2 separate regions of the Homo sapiens genome follow, and region 1 is linked to region 2. The links come from fine-mapping of genetic effects on gene expression. Tissue or cell type: whole blood. Region 2 holds a variant in brackets; the other region holds the start of a gene. All regions are shown on one strand. Distances are between the middles of the regions.

What was found. PIP is the estimated chance that this variant, and not a neighbour inherited with it, causes the effect.
Region 1: it holds the start of ZNF276, and the variant in region 2 is fine-mapped to the expression of ZNF276 in whole blood (INTERVAL, PIP above 0.99).

The regions. Positions count from the first base shown.
Region 1 is chr16:89,717,696-89,725,859 of GRCh38, reverse strand. It overlaps ZNF276 (zinc finger protein 276), which reads right to left and starts at 4,323. Exons shown (of 11, transcript NM_001113525.2): 1 at 4,015-4,323; 2 at 3,026-3,329; 3 at 2,677-2,723; 4 at 2,151-2,600. The coding sequence starts at 4,219. It overlaps VPS9D1 (VPS9 domain containing 1), which reads left to right and starts at 4,962. Exons shown (of 15, transcript NM_004913.3): 1 at 4,962-5,097; 2 at 6,758-6,833. The coding sequence starts at 4,999. VPS9D1-AS1 (VPS9D1 antisense RNA 1) reads right to left here. Exons shown (of 4, transcript NR_036480.1): 4 at 7,695-8,164. RefSeq lists silencers at 3,696-4,155, 4,236-5,355, a cis regulatory region at 6,665 and an enhancer at 6,581-6,750.
Region 2 is chr16:89,742,511-89,750,510 of GRCh38, reverse strand. It overlaps FANCA (FA complementation group A), which reads left to right. Exons shown (of 43, transcript NM_000135.4): 32 at 609-781; 33 at 1,744-1,852; 34 at 3,621-3,680; 35 at 3,823-3,927; 36 at 5,440-5,552; 37 at 7,573-7,711. Among named protein-coding and RNA genes, the nearest start is that of ZNF276, 25 kb to the right of the region's middle. RefSeq lists enhancers at 3,641-3,810, 6,207-6,376, 6,873-7,042. The variant C/T (reference allele first, on the strand shown) is at 4,636.

The sequences.
Region 1 (8,164 bases), 25 kb after region 2:
GCCTGGGCAAAAGAGTGAGACCCTGTCTCTACTTAAAATAAGTTTTCTTTGTTTTGTTTTTTTCTTTTTTAGACAGAATCTTGCTCTGTCGGTCAGGCCAGAGCGTAGTGGTAGAATCTCAGCTCACTGCAATCTCCGCCTCCCAGGGTCAAGCGATTCTCCTGCCTCAGCCTCCCAAGTAGCTGGGCCTACAGGCAACCACAGCCACATCCAGCTAATTTTTTGTATTTTTAGTAGAGATGGGGTTTCACCGTGTTAGTCAGGATGGTCTCGATCTCCTGACCCCGTGATCCGCCTACCTCAGCATCCCAGAGTGCTGGGATTACAGGCGTGAACCACTGCACTTGGCCTAAAATAAGTTTTAAAAAGTATTGTTCTTGGCTGGGCGCGGTGGTTCACACCTGTAATCCCAGCATTCTGGGAGGCTGATGCAGGTGGATCACGAGGTCAGGAGTTCAAGACCAAGCCTGGCCAACATGGTGAAACCCCATCTCTACTAAAAATACAAAAATTAGGTGGGCGTAGTGGCGCGTGCCCATCATCCCAGCTACTCGGGAGGCTGAGGCAGGTGGATCACGAGGTCAGGAGTTCGAGACCAAGCCTGGCCAACATGGTGAAACCCCATCTCTACTAAAAATACAAAAATTAGGTGGGCGTGGTGGCACGTGCCCGTCATCCCAGCTACTCGGGAGGCTGAGGCAGGTGGATCACGAGGTCAGGAGTTCGAGACCAAGCCTGGCCCACATGGTGAAACCCCATCTCTACTAAAAATACAAAAATTAGGTGGGCGTGGTGGCATGTGCCTGTCATCCCAGCTACTCGGGAGGCTGAGGTAGCGGTGAGCCAAGATGGCACCACCGCACTCCAGCCTGGGCTACAAAACGAGACTCTGTCTCAAAAATAAATAAACACATAGATAGATAGATAAGTAGGTAAATAAATAGATAAATAGGTAGATAAGTAGATACATAGATATACAGATAGGTAGGTAGATAGAGAGAGACAAAGAAGTAGGAAGATAGATAGGTAGGTAGGTAGATAGATACACAGATAGATAGAATTGTTCTCAACACACTGCATACAAGTTTACAGAGCCAAGCAGCTCTAAGATGTGACACTCACAATCCCGTTCCTACCTGAGGCCCCCGAGCCGCACTGTCTCATCTGTGCACCCGTATCTAGCTAAACTATCTGGGTAGCTGTGTTTCTGTTTGGGACAGAGTCTTGCTCTGTCACCCAGGCTGGAGTACGGTTGTGCGATGTCGGCTCACTGCAACTTCCGCCTCCCAGGCTGAAGTGATTCTCGTGCCTCAGCCTCCAGAGTAGCTGGGATTACAGATGCCCACCACCATACCTGGCTAGTTTTTGTATTTTTATTAGCGATGGGGTTTCGCTATGTTGGCCAGGTTGGTCTTGATCTCGTGACCTCAAGTGATCCACCCACCTCAGCCTCCCAAAGTGCTGGGATTACAGGTAGCTACGCTTTTCGGAAGCTCCCCTCAAGACTCAAAGTGGGAACTGAGTGCTCAGGTGGGGACAGGTGCACAGAGCACACACAGGACAAGAGGCCGGAGGGAAACTGGCCCTGGCCCTCCTAAAACAACATCCAGGAGCAGCTGCACCAGCCCACAGTGCTATGGGTTCTGGGGCCCAAACAAGGGCCTTGTGTTTCCCCTCAGCCTGTCAGCAGAGAAAGCTGCGCCACACTGGCCCACACCAGGGTGTCACCAGGCGGCTGGCTGAGTGCCAGGAAATGACCTGCAGCTGGCCCAGGGCAGCAGCCGCAGAGGCAACGGCCATTCTTTTCTCCCACATCCACAGACAAGGCCCTATTCTTCCCTCTTCCTCAGTCCCCTCAGCCCCAAGCACAGGCTTAGAAAAAGACTCGACGGCTGATGAGCGTGTCTCCACAGAAACTGCTGGAACAGAGCCCTGCTCACAGAGGAGCAAGAGGCGGAGACAGGCTGGCCGCCCCTCCCTGCTCTCTGGATGTGGTGAGCAGCCGCAGGCAGAAGCCCCAAGCTCTGCTCCTTCTCACACCACACCCCAGCCACCACCTAGAGCAGTGGAGACATTCACTTTCTGCTGAAAACCCTGCCCCACTGAGGAGCACACATCCTGGTCTAGCACCAGCAAGAGGTGCCTCCTACCTGGGGCCCTGCAAAGGGGCAGGCTTGGCTGAGGTGGGAAGCCCGACCTGGGCCCCACCGCGTCGCTGTCCGAAGGAGGCTGGGCCACATCCGTGCTGGGCAGGGTCTTGGTCTCAGCCCCAACTGGGGTCCCTGTCCCTCTACCCTGGGAGGTCTGAGGGGCATCCCCAGGGTTCCACCCTCGGTGCTGGGGCAGCCGTGGCGCCGTCTCTTTGTCCCATGGCCACTTGACTGCCAGCGCACTGTCCAGCAAGAAGGCCTTGCAGCTGGAGCTGGTATCCATGGTGTAGTCGTGGCCCTGGTCGCAGCCCCACACGACCTGGATGACGCCGCAGTACTCGGAGGACAGTGTCCTCTGAAGGTGGGGCAGGGCCCCGCAGCTGGCCGCATGTCCATGCACCCACCCCACCAAGCCGTGCAGGCACTGGGGGCTGGATGTGATCAGATCCACTGCAGAGAGTCAACAGAGATGTCAGATCCACGGCTGGTCGGCACCCAGCCCACCCTCCACCGGGGGAGGACTCACCCAGACACGCTCCCTCCTCTGCCCCTGTTGGGGGCTGGGCACCGACCCTGCAAAGGATCAGTGTGGCCATGAGCAGGACAAGCAGGCGGAGGTTCACAGCGCTCGTCGTACGGGACCCTCTCGAGATCTCAAACCTCAGCGGTCCCCATAGGCAACTTTCTCTTCCCTCACCCCAGCTCCTCCCAGTTCATCTCTCCACAACAGTCCCAGGGCTGTTGGCACTGAACCCGGGCATGGCCCATTCCCCCCACCCAGAGGCTCCCGCGGAGGCACGCCCTGTCCCTCTCTCAACACCCGTCACACTGCAGTACTGACAGCCTGAACGTGCTCTGAACAGACTAGGGCGTACTTTGCACAAGGCTTCCGGCGACCAGCCGGGGAGGCGTTGACCCTCTGCAGGAAGGACTTGAGAAGGCTGTGGCACTGGTAGAACTGGGCGTGGCAGCTCTTGCAGACAAACGGAGACAAGGTGGGGTCCTGGCGGACAGCCACACCAAGCAGGCGCTGGAAGTCCCGTACGAGCACGCGCTCCTCTGCGGATGGCCTCTCCATGCTCGCTCCAGGCGCCCTCTCGGAGATGCTGCGCAGGCTTCTCGAGGAAAACTTCCCGTGGCAGAGGCGACAGTGACCCATGGCGAGAGCCCGGCCTGCTCCTGCACAGAGCGGCAGGAAGTGTTAGCAGCTGGCAAAGGAGGCTCCTGAGCACAGGGCGTCCCGGACTCCAGGTCCGAGGGCAGCGCCTGCAGCGCCCTTCGCGCGGCTCCCGGACACAGCAAGCGGCTCGGGCGCGCGGCTCTCGGCGGGACAAGCCGCCCTGTGGGGGATGTGGCCGCTGGTCCAAGAAATCTTTCAAATTTCAAAGGCCTCTAAGGCCTCTCCAGCGAAGCAACTTCAAGAGTGAAACCTGGAACTGCACCCTCCTCCCAGCGACCGCGAGACCCGGGGCAGGCGCTGCGCCCTCCAGGAAACGCCGCGGTTTCCTGTCTGCCAATTGCAGGTGCCGCCTCCTTTCCGGCTCCGCGAGGGCACGAAGCAGGGGAGGGCGATTCCCACGCGCGGGCACCCCAGGGCGACCTGCCCGCGGTGACAGCGCTCCTCACGCCGGGTCCCTTCTGGCCGAGCCCGCGGCCGGGGAGGCCGGGCCGGCGACGCCGGCGTCACGGAGCGCGAGGAAAACCGAGCCGGCCGCCCAGCGCCTATCCCGACGCAGCCCCGAGTCCGCTACGCCCTTGGCCGGGTGGAGGAGAGGCCGCGCCGGCTTCCGGGCGTCAGTGCGGCTCCTCCCACGAGCAACCCCTGCCGCGACCCCAACCCGCCACGCCCGGGCCGCGGACCCACCTGCCTCGTCCGCGCCGTCCTCGCCCGCGTCCCCGCAGGACCCCACCGGGCCCCAGGCGCGCCGCGCCGTCGCCCCGTCCACCCTCGGCCCACCGCTAAGGGAAGGGCGGCCCCGAGTCCGGCTGACGCCGCCGCCGCCGTCCGAGGCCCCGCACTGTCGGGACGACCCAGGAGACAGGAAGCGGCCCAGCCGGTCCCGCTTCATGGCAGCGGAGGACGCCAGCAGAATCCCGCGGGTGCTGCCCGGCCCGAGGTTCCTAGAGGACCCGGCGTTAGGCTCCGCTCGGCGCGCTGGAAGCGAGGCGGGGCGGGGGAGGGGCGGAGCGAGAAGCAAAGCGAGGCGGGCGGGGCGGGCCAGGGGCCAGGGGCGGGACCCCGCCGGCCGAGGTTCCACCCGCGGTGCCAGCGCCCCCGCTCGTACCGCTCCCCTCTCGGGCCCGAGGGCGGCCGTGCCCGCCTCTGTCGCCAATGGAGCGCTGGCCTGGGGCGGGGCGGTGGGCGGAGGGGCTCGCCGACACCTCACGACGAGTCCTCCAGGGAGAGGCGACGCGGCCCTCACCGCCTCTTACCGTGGGAGACGGAGGCGCGGGGCGGGCAGGCGCCGGCGGAGGCCACGCGGCGCGCAGGTGGCGGGCGGGCTGCAGAAAGGGGAGGGGGGCCGGGGTCTCACGTAGAGAGGGGCCTGGCTGCCGCGGTTAGACGCCCATGGCAACTCCGTGAGGGGCCCTTCTCGCCAGCCCCGTCTCAAGACGGCGAAGAGGCCCGGCTCCGTCGCGACAACCCACCCGGACTCTGCCGCCCCCGCCACTAACACCCGTGGGGCCCGCAGTACGCGCGGAGGGGGCCCGTCGCCGGAAGTGCGGCCGCGTCCCTTCCTGCGGTCCGCTGCTCGGGCGGCTCCAGCACCAGCGCCGGCTGCGTTCCGGGCCTCCGGTCGCCCGTCCAGCCCCTCGGCTACCGCCGCCGCCTCCCCCGCTCGGCGCCATGGCCGCTGCGGCCGGGGACGGCACGGTGAAGCCGCTGCAGAGCGCCATGAAGCTTGCCAACGGGGCCATCGAGCTGGACACCGGCAACCGGCCCCGGGTGAGGCGGGGCGGGGGCGGGGCTTGGCCGCTGAGGGTGGCCCCTGGAGGGACCCCCGCCCGGGGAGGGCGAGGACGGGGCCGGCTCGGGCTGGAGACTTGGGAGCGGGCGCCAGCCGGGATCCCGGGCCGCGGTTCCCGGGCGAGGACGGGGGCGGGGCGCAGCCGGGCGTGCAGTGACCTTGGACAGCTCAGATCCTGCGGACCTTGGCTTTCCACTCCGCTCGCTGAGCCGGTGCATCACAGCCTGGGCTCCACCTGTAGAGGAGATGTAGCAGGAGGGTCCGCCAGGCCACCTTCCAAAATCCGAGTGACGGGCAGGTCCGTGCGTTCGTGCATTTTTCTGGGCAGAGATGGTAGATTTAATCCGGTTGCCACAGGGGACGGCATGCAGAGAAGGCCACATACCTGCTCATTTGTGATGCTGTTTGCAGTCGTCTTAGGAAGGAAAAGCAGGCCGGAGGGGTGTGGCCCGTTCCTGAGATGGGGCCGAATCTAAGGTTGGCGACCAGGTAGAGAAGCTGGCCCAGCCACACCCGGCTGCCCAAGGAGGGAAGGAGCCTGCCTGTGCCTAGGAGAAGCCTCGTTCCTGAATCTGCTGCTTTCCCCAAGTTGGTTTTTAGGGCAGCAGGTGCCCCCGCAAGTCAGAAATCCTGCCTGGATTATATTTCGTCTTTCTCTCTGAGGCATAGACTTAAAGATAGGAAACTTAACAGCTAGGGATAAAACAAAAAAACATAGCATATTGCTGGGCGCTGTGGTTCACGCCTGTAATCCTGACACTTTGGGAGGCCCAGGCGGTGGATCACCTGAGGTGAGGAGTTTGAGACCAGCCTGGCCAACGTGGTGAAACCCCGTCTCTACTAAAAATACAAAAATTAGCTGGGTGTGGCGGTGCACACCTGTAATCCTAGCTCCTTGGGAGGCTGAGGGATGAGAATCACTTGAACCCAGGAGGCGGAGGTTGCAGTGACTCGAGATCCTGCCACTGCACTCCAGCCTGGGCGACAGAGTGAGACTCTGTCTCAACAAAACAAAACAAACCACCATTCTGTGGTTCCAATGACCTGTGCCTTGTCAGAGGGGTCACACAGCCTTGAAAGGTAACAGTTCTAGGCTCCTGTGTGCACTGGAAATACGTAACTCGCAGGTTCTGGGAAAGGGATTTCTCGGAACTTAAACCGGGAAGTGATTTGAAAACTTCCAGTATCACTCCCTTTATCCTCTCAGAAAAGTATTTTTTTAAGCCACTGAATGAATCACCCTTGAGTTGCACAAGAAGGAAACATTGCATAGAATGAAAAATGACAGCAAACTGCTGAGGTCACTTCCCCAGGCCCACTGAATGAGAATATCAGTTCCTGTGCTGGAGAGAAAGGCAGTCAGAGGAGAAAATGAGGTCCAGCTCGTCCCTGGCTCTCTCTCTCTCTCAGGTCCTGATGTCTTTTCCAAGTCTGGAGAGCAGCGATGCTGCCTGTGCCCTGCGCAGAAAACCGTGTTCCGGCTGCAGCTAACCACCGCAGGCTCAATGTCTCTGGGTGTATCTCAGAGATAAGCAGGTGGTGGTGTTCCTTGCTTATCCCACAAGGGCACCTGGCCGGAATAATGGAGTCACTTCCCTCCACTGGCCTGACCCCACTCTTTCTCTTTCCTGGACACAGGAGGCATACACGGAATACCTGAGGAGCATCCACTATATCTCCCAGGTGTTACTAGAAGAAGTGGAAACCACTAAAGGTACGGCTCAGCCAGCCGGGCGCGGTGGCTCACGCCTGTAATCCCAGCACTGTGGGAGGCAGAGGCGGGCTATCACCTGAGGTCAGGAGATCGAAACCATCCTGGCTAACATGGTGAAACCCCGTCTCTACTAAAAATCTAAAAAATCAGCTGGGCCTGGTGGCGGGTGTCTGTAGTCCCAGCTACTCGGGAGGCTGAGGCAGGAGAATTGCTTGAACCCGGGAGCAGAGGTTGCAGTGAGCCGAGATCACCCCATTGTACTCCAGCCTGGAACAAGAGCGAAACTCCGTCTCAAAAAAAAAAAAAAGAAAAGAAAAAGAAAAAGGCATGGCTGAGCCCTGCTGCTTCCTCCATGCTGGACAAATTGTGGGCATCCTAGCCCTTGATGGGTGCCAGGCTTCGGCGGGGGTCTCTTGTATCCTTCTAGCCTGACCATTTGTAGTAGGTGGACCAGCCCACACTCAGTGTGATATAGTGGCAGGAAGGGACCAGCGTTGTGGATAAGAAGATGGAGACTGGGGTGTGGCAAGACACTGGCTCCAGTGAGCGGCACAGACGTGGGGCAGCATTCCAGCTGTGGGGTGTGCAAAGGCCCTGAAATAGGAGTGGGCGGGGTGGGGCTGTGTGCATGCCTTGGGTGGAACTGGGGCCGTTCTGGTGTGCAGGGAAACTTGAAGAGACTTTGAGCTTTGAGGGAGAGGACAGCCTGGGAGTGGAGCCTCAGGTGAGGACTGAGGATGGCAGTGGCCAGACCACCCAGGATGGGAGCAGTAAACGGCCTCGGGGTGCGTCCTGAAGGTGGAACAGAGCAGACTTGCAGGAGGCAGATGGGGCAGGAGCAAACTGGCAAGGAGAGGAATAGCAAGTTCCGCAATGAACACATTAAGTTTGAGAGGCCAGCAGCCGCTGCACAAAGGATCACAGAGGTCAGGGGGAGCCACTGGACATAGAGCACAGAGGTCAGGGGGAGCCACTGGACGTGGGATCACAGAGGTCAGGGGGACCCACTGGACGTGGGAGCACAGAGGTCGGGGGAGCCACTGGACGTGGGAGCACAGAGGTCGGGGGAGCCACTGGACGTGGGAGCACAGAGGTCGGGGGAGCCACTGGACGTGGGATCACAGAGGTCGGGGGAGCCCCTGGACGTGGGATCACAGAGGTCGGGGCAGCCACTGGACGTAGGATCACACAGGTCAGGGGGAGCTAACAGTTGCCCCAGCTCCCTAGGGAGCCGGTGAGCTCGGCTGAGCTCTGGCGCTCCAAGATTGAGGAGTTGGGTGGAGGAGTGGCAGAGGATCCCCTGGGGAGAGCAAAGTCCCAGAAGACAGAGG
Region 2 (8,000 bases):
GGCTGTTTTTTTTTGTTTGTTTTTTTTTGAGACGGAGTCTCACTCTGTTGCCCAGTCTGAAGTGCAGTGGTGCGATCTGGGCTCACTGCAAGCTCCACCTCCCGGGTTCACGCCATTCTCCTGCCTCAGCCGCCTGAGTCGCTGGGACTACAGGCACCCGCCACCATGCCCAGCTAATTTTTTTGTATTTTTTAGTAGCGACAGGGTTTCACCATGTTAGCCAGGATGGTCTCCATCTCCTGACCTCGTGATCCTCCTGCCTTGGCCTCCCAAAGTGCTGGGATTACAGGCATGAGCCACCACGCCCAGCTGTTTTTTCTTAATTGATAAGTAGTTGATAAGTAGTACTGTAACTCCTGGGCTCAAGGAATCTGCCTGCCTCGGCCTCCCAAAGTGCTGGCATTACAGACGTGAGCCACAGCACCCGGCCTGCACTGTTCTATATTTGCAATTTCAAAGTGATTTCCAATTGAAATAGCTTGCCCCACTTGTTCCTTCTTGCCCTGTCCACTGTGGAGACCTCTCCCTGACCCCTGACGTCTGGGTCCCCGACTGGCTGGGCAGTGAGCCCCGAGGCCTTCCTGTGCCAGCATACTGCTCTTTTTCAGGAGATGGTAGCTGACCTGGAGCTGCAGCAAGACCTCATAGTGCCTCTCGGCCACACCCCTTCCCAGGAGCACTTCCTCTTTGAGATTTTCCGCAGACGGCTCCAGGCTCTGACAAGCGGGTGGAGCGTGGCTGCCAGCCTTCAGAGACAGAGGGAGCTGCTAATGTACAAACGGTAACACCTACTACCACCTGGGCAGGGCAGCACCACCTGGGCAGGGCAGCATCTCATGACGGTCCTAGAGGTTCTTTGTAGTGAGTTTGTTTCCCGTTACTTACTTGTCTGTGTGTCCCCACCCCAAGCCTGTCCATTTCTGTGGCACATGCCACGGAGAAGAGGATCTGGAGGGTTGAAAGTACTTTTGATTAAAACCTTCCAGCCAAGCGAGGTGGTTCATGCCTGTAATCCTAGCATTTTGGGAGGCTGAGGTGAGTGGATCACCTGAGGTCAGGAGTTTGAGACCAGCCTGACCAACATGGCGAAACGCCATGTCTACTAAAAATACAAAAAAAATACAAAAAAATTTAGCTAGGTGTGGTGGCGGGCACCTGTAATCCCAGCTACTCGGGAGACTGAGGCAGGAGAGTGGTGTGAACCTGGGAGGCAGAGGTTTCAGTGAGCCGAGATCACGCCATTGCACACCAGCCTGGGCAACAGAGCGAGACTCTGTCTCAACAACAACAACAAAACCTTCCTGCTCAGACGTGGAGGGACGTCGCAGAAGGAGCTCTTGTGAAAGTAGGGAAAAGTGTTCAGAAATGCCCACGGCGGCTGCATTTATAAGAAGCAGCGTGGAGTCATTTAATTTTACAGTCATAGGGAATTGCTTCACTAGACAGACTGGTGCGTCATCCACTTGGTTATCGTGTAACTGTCAGAAGTTGTTGGTTATTATGTAACTGTTAAAAGTTGTTTGTTTGGTAACACATTTTGAATGCAGTGGGCCAAACACAGTATAGGGGAGGTGGGCTCAGAGTGCAGGCTTTGGATGGGACAGAGGGACACAGGCCAAGGCTCTGGTTCCAACAGTGGCCCTGGGTTTCAGGGTGGTGGTTGCTGCTCTGAGAGTCTGAGCCCTTGGGAAGGAGCAGAGTGTACGCTGTGCTGTCGCCACCAATACAGCCCCTTCTTTCCAGGATCCTCCTCCGCCTGCCTTCGTCTGTCCTCTGCGGCAGCAGCTTCCAGGCAGAACAGCCCATCACTGCCAGATGCGAGCAGTTCTTCCACTTGGTCAACTCTGAGATGGTAGGTGCCCCGTGTGCACGTGTCCGTCCGATCTGTCAGTGCCTGTGGCGCTAACAGCAGCTCTTGCAGCCTCCATGCGTGTACTGACCGTGTGAATTACTGAGGAAAGGGTTCAAAGTCAAATAGGGAACAGTGTCTGGAATGCCATGTGAGGGAGGACCCCACCCACAGCCAGGACGGCGACCAGCACATCACCAAACCAGCTGTAGGTTGCCTTCTCCCAAGTTTGAGTTCCTTTAGTTTCCCTCAAGTTTTAATGATTTTGACACATGGAATCGTACAGACCATTTTGTGTGCCACGCACCTCGGTTCATTTATTTCTAATCTCAACATGCTTCATGTGTAAAAAAAGCCTTGTGGTGATCTGACTACCGCTGTTGCCTGCCAGGCAGCCCAGTTATCTTCCATTTTAGACACTGCCCAGCGTGAGTTGCAGGGTGATCTTAACCAGCAGGCTGGGTGCGGTGGCTCACGCCCGTAATCCCAGCACTCTGGAAAGGTGGGGGATCACTTGAGCCCAGGAGTTCGAGACCAGCCTGGGCAACATGACAAAACCCTGTTTCTACAAAAAATAGAAAAATTAGCTGGGTATGGTGGTGCACGCCTGTACTCCCACCTACTTGAGAGGCTGGGTCAGGAGGAGTAATTGAGCCCAGGAGGCAGAGTTGCACTGAGCCAAGATCCCACCACTACACTCCAGCCTGGGTGACAGAGCGAAACTCTTGTCTCAAATAAAAAGAAGTGACACTCGCTGTGGGGACGGGCAGCGTAGGGACCCAGTTGGTCAGAGCTGGGGAGACGGATACCAGCCCCTCCCACTCTACAGAGAGCAGCTTCTGCTCCCGAAGGCCTTTTTCTTGTTTTTGAAGATGCACAAATGTGAGAGATGGAATTCAGGTTCCATGCCAGCTGTGCAGCATTTTATATTTTTATTTATTTATTTATTTATTTATTTTTTGAGACAGAGTCTTGCTCTGTCGCCCAGGCTGGAGTGCAGCAGTGAAATCTTGGCTCACCCTGCAACCTCCGCCTCCCAGGTTCAAGCGATTCTCCTGCCTCAGCCTCCTGAGTAGCTGGGACTACAGGTGCCTGCCGCCATGACCGGCTAAGTTTTGTATTTTTAGTAGAGATGACGTTTTACCATGTTGGTCAGTCTGGTCTTGAACTCCTGACCTCGTGATCCACCCGCCTTGGCCTCCCAAAGTGCTGGGATTACAGGTGTGAGCCCGGCCTTGTGCAGCACTTCAAAATGTGACAAGGAAAGCAGAGGACGTGAGACTAGCAAAAGCTTTCAGAAAATCACTATGGTCTCCTTTGAATTCTTATGAATGGCTGTTTTTCAGAAAGCTCTCAGTTGGCACGTGACAGCCGACAGACAGGAAAACACCATAGACAGCACTTGGTTAGTGAAGGGACCAGAGGATGGTTGGCCCTTGGTATTAGTGTCGTCCTCACCACAGTTCTACGCTCCGGGTGCGTCCCCTTCCCTGCGGCTGCTTGTGCCTCCCTGGCTTCTTCCTGGAGCCTACAAGACTGTTTGGGCCAGAGCTGGTGGGCTGCAGGATCTGGCCGCCCAGGGAAGCCGTTAAGTTTCAGGACAGCACAGCCAGGGCGCCAGGCCCGGTCAGCCCAGGAGCACCATCCATGGTGGCCACGCCAAGCCTTAGCGAGTGTTTTTCTCAAAACTGAATCCACAGCAGCCACTCTGCATGTTGGTCTCGCCTCTCTTCCTGTGGGCTTTTCTTACCTGCCTTGAACTCTTTTGCAGAGAAACTTCTGCTCCCACGGAGGTGCCCTGACACAGGACATCACTGCCCACTTCTTCAGGGTGAGATGCTCCCTCAGCCCCTCTCGTGGCCTTCTCAGAACGCCGTGGGTGGATCCTCCTGTCAGCTTCCTGTGAGTTCCTTCACTCTACTAGTTGTGGGTCCTCACAAACCGCTGACCTCCTGCTGCGTTCTCTCCTGCAGGGCCTCCTGAACGCCTGTCTGCGGAGCAGAGACCCCTCCCTGATGGTCGACTTCATACTGGCCAAGTGCCAGACGAAATGCCCCTTAATTTTGACCTCTGCTCTGGTGGGTCAGCTGTCTTGTTTGGTGTTTTGTTTTGGGGATGAGTGGGAGACTCCACAGCTGCCTCTGGCATCTCTGCAGCACGTCTCCATCACGGGTGTTACCATCTCAGGGAAAATGCATCAGGAGACATGGAAGCCACAGTTAAAGATGCCAGCTCATAGCAGATGAGGGCCGCACATCCTGAGTTCCCAGAACCGTCCCTGCCCCCACCGCCGTCACCATGGCACCCGCAGGACTTCTCCCCTGTGGACCCCACTCAGACCCCACGGGCACCTTCATGTCCACAGGGGTGCAGGGCTTGTTTGTTCACGGTCTTGGGTTGTGCACTGGCTGGAGGCTGTACGGTGGCTGCCTGTGCCCCGTCACGAGAGCATGACTGTGGCCCACTTGCGCCTGACTATGCTTTCTTGGGACTTCGGAGCAGAGACTTCACCTCAGCTCCCGCCAGAGCTCAGCAGGCTCCCCTAGCAGCCCAGGGTCCCGAGAGTGGGAGGAGGGCAGCATTTCCCTCACTTCCCTGGCGGCTCACTTAGTCCTGAAGACCACAGCTGTCGCCCTTCCTTCTCGGTCATCAGGGACAGGAGGGCCTTTTTCTCCGCAGCACGGCATGTTCCCCAGGGAGCTCCCCAAGCAGGCTGCATTTGCACCGAGTTGTAGCTCAGTTGGTGGAATTCGTGAGAAATGAACTCTTCGGTGTTTAGAACGCCA[C/T]CTCTCAGCTGAGGGCATCCAAGGACCAGGCATTCCCAGCTCAGGGCAGTGTGGTCTCTTCACTGTTTCGTTCCCAGCTCAGAGGAGTGTGGTCCCTTCACTGTTTCGTTCCCAGCTCAGGGCAGTGTGGTCCCTTCACTGTTTTGTTCCCAGCTCAGAGGAGTGTGGTCCCTTCACTGTTTTGTTCCCAGCTCAGGGCAGTGTGGTCCCTTCACTGTTTTGTTCCCAGCTCAGAGGAGTGTGGTCCCTTCACTGTTTCGTTCCCAGCTCAGGGCAGTGTGGTCCCTTCACTGTTTTGTTCCCAGCTCAGAGGAGTGTGGTCCCTTCACTGTTTCGTTCCCAGCTCAGGGCAGTGTGGTCCCTTCACTGTTTCGTTCCCAGCTCAGAGGAGTGTGGTCCCTTCACTGTTTTGTTCCCAGCTCAGAGGAGTGTGGTCCCTTCACTGTTTTGTTCCCAGCTCAGAGGAGTGTGGTCCCTTCACTGTTTCATTCCCAGCTCAGGGGACTGTGGTCCCTTCACTGTTTCGTTCCCAGCTCAGGGGAGTGTGGTCCCTTCACTGTTGCGTTAGGCCAGGCTCTTCCTTCTCCAAATTCCACGTCTTCCATGAGTGTGGGTAATAAATGCCTCATGGAACTGCTTTGAGCCTTAATTGACGTAAAAAATACTGGCTTTGGAGTTCCAGAGCGCAGGGCGAGTGTGGGCCTGTAGTGGCCTGTAGGAGCACTGGGGGCTTGTCATGGCTGGGGCAGCGGAGGTGTGTCCATCTCAGCCACCCTCATCTGTGTGCTGGTGCTCTCTCCATAGGTGTGGTGGCCGAGCCTGGAGCCTGTGCTGCTCTGCCGGTGGAGGAGACACTGCCAGAGCCCGCTGCCCCGGGAACTGCAGAAGCTACAAGAAGGCCGGCAGTTTGCCAGCGAGTACGTGTGGGTGGTGAGATGGGGTGTGCCCGCCCAGATGCACTTCGGGACCTGCTCAAGGTCATCTCCTAAACACCCTGGCTTGCTTGAGAGAAGCGGTGTGGGCAGCCTCTCGTGTGAGCAGGGAGAAAAGAACCGAGTTCTCGTGGTGGTGGGCGCCTGTAATCCCAACTACTGGGGAGGCCGAGGCAGGAGAATCAGTTGAACCCAGGAGGTGGAGTTTCCAGTGAGCCGAGATCACTCCAACGGCCAATAGAGCAAGACTCTGTCCAGAAAAAAAACAAAAAAAAAAACAGCCTCTGCCAGTGTCTCGTCTGAGTGAGGAACGGCCTCTCCCAGGCTCCCGTCTGAGTGAGGAGCTCGAGTGATTCCTTTGCACCTGCTCCCCTTCCTCTTAAATCTAATGTGGGCTCCTAGAGTGCACCGCGTGCTGGTAGGGTCAGTGTCATGGGGACCTCAGGGATGCAGATTCTCAGCCTACCCTGACCTGTCGACCCCAGTCAGATATTCACGGGTCCTTGCAAACCATCAAGCTCCTGGCGCAATCCAGGCTCACACACCCTTCTGAGGACCACAGAGCTGACAGCCACTCCACCTGCTGAATGTGGGTGCCGTGTTCTTAAGGGGTCGTCAGAGGGCACTGCTAGTACCCATCCTGCCTCCTTGGAGAACACCTTACTTTGTGACTAGTTTTGAATCACTGATGCCACACCGGGTCCCCTCAGGGTTTGGCTGCTCGCCGTCTGCTGAAAGAAGAGAAGAGGGCCCCGGCGCGGTGGCGCACACCTGTAATCCCAGCACTTTGGGAGGCCAAGGCAGGTGGATCACCTGAGGTCAGGAGTTTGAGACCAGCCTGGCCAACATGTGAAACAATCTCTACTGAAAATACAGAAATGAGCTGGGTGTGATAGTGTGCGCCTGTAGTCCCAGCTACTCAGGAGGCTGAGGCAGGAGAATTGCTTGAACCCAGGAGGTGGAGGTTGCAGTGAGCCGAGATCATGCCATTGTAGTCCAGCATGGGCAATGAGAGAGAAACTCCATCTCAAAAAAGGAGAAAGCAGGTCACACCTCCAGTTCTAATTCTACAAACACAGATCAGATTGTCTGAAGTTTTGTTTTTTGTTTTGTTTTGTTTGAGACAGAGTTTCACTCTTGTCACCCACCCTAGAGTGAGATGGCACGATCTCGGCTCACCATGACCTCCGCCTCCCAGGTTCAAGCGATCCTCCTGCCTCAGTCTCCTGAGTAGCTGGGATTACAGGCGTGAGCCACCATGCCTGGCTAATTTTGTATTTTTAGTAGAGACAGGGTTTCTCCACGTTGGTCAGGCTGGTCTCGAACTCCCGACCTCAGGTGATCTGCCTGCCTCAGCCTCCCAAAGTGCTGGGATTACAGGCGTGAACCACCACGCCCTGCCTCGTTTTTGTTTATTTGAGATTGAGTCTCACTGTGTTGCCCAGGCAGATCTCAAACTGCTGGGCTTAAGCGATCCTCCTGAAGTGCTATGATTGCAGATGTGAACCGTCATGCCCAGCTTATTTAAAGTCTCTTAAACCACAGCATTGTTTCATTAATTTCCTACCAATTTTTTAACCAGCCAGAAAACTCAGACACCACACTGGGGCCAGAGCCAGGCAGTCCTTTGTTCTCTGTTGTAGGAGGGAATGCCTGATCCACAGGGCCAGGCATGGGCAACTGAGGAAAATGAGGCCTCTTCTTCCAAAATGTAGGCAGCTGGGGCCCAAGAGCACAGGGCAAGGTAGACAGGACCAGGCCAGCTGCCTGCTCAGTCAGCAGCTCTCAGAACGCCAGGATGCTGTGGGGGCAGCACCAGCACCTGCCCACACTCTCACGTGGACCTGGGGGATGCAGACCTAGTTTCTGATGGTCCTGAAACCCTTCTCTGTCCTCTGATGGAAAGGCAGGCCCCAAAGGTGACAGGTGGGAATAAGGACTTGGTTTCTATGGCGTGGTTGTATGGTTGTAAGGCCCTGCAATGACCCCGTTCTCTCTGTCCCAGTTTCCTCTCCCCTGAGGCTGCCTCCCCAGCACCCAACCCGGACTGGCTCTCAGCTGCTGCACTGCACTTTGCGATTCAACAAGTCAGGGAAGAAAACATCAGGAAGCAGCTAAAGAAGCTGGACTGCGAGAGAGAGGAGGCAAGATAGGAAATTCTTTTACTGATTTATTTTCTCGCAAGCTTGGTTTCAATCAGTGCTATTTCTCTGGGCTTGTCTGATGAACTGTTTTTCTAAAGACAAATATGTGGCTTGGAGCAAGACTTTTTTTTTTTTTTTTTTTTTTTGTATTTTTAGTAGAGACGGGGTTTCACTGTGTTAGCCAGGATGGTCTCGATCTCCTGACCCCGTGATCCTCCCGCCTTGGCCTCCCAAAGTGCTGGGATTACAGGCGTGAGCCACCACGCCCAGCTGGCTTGGAGTAAGACTT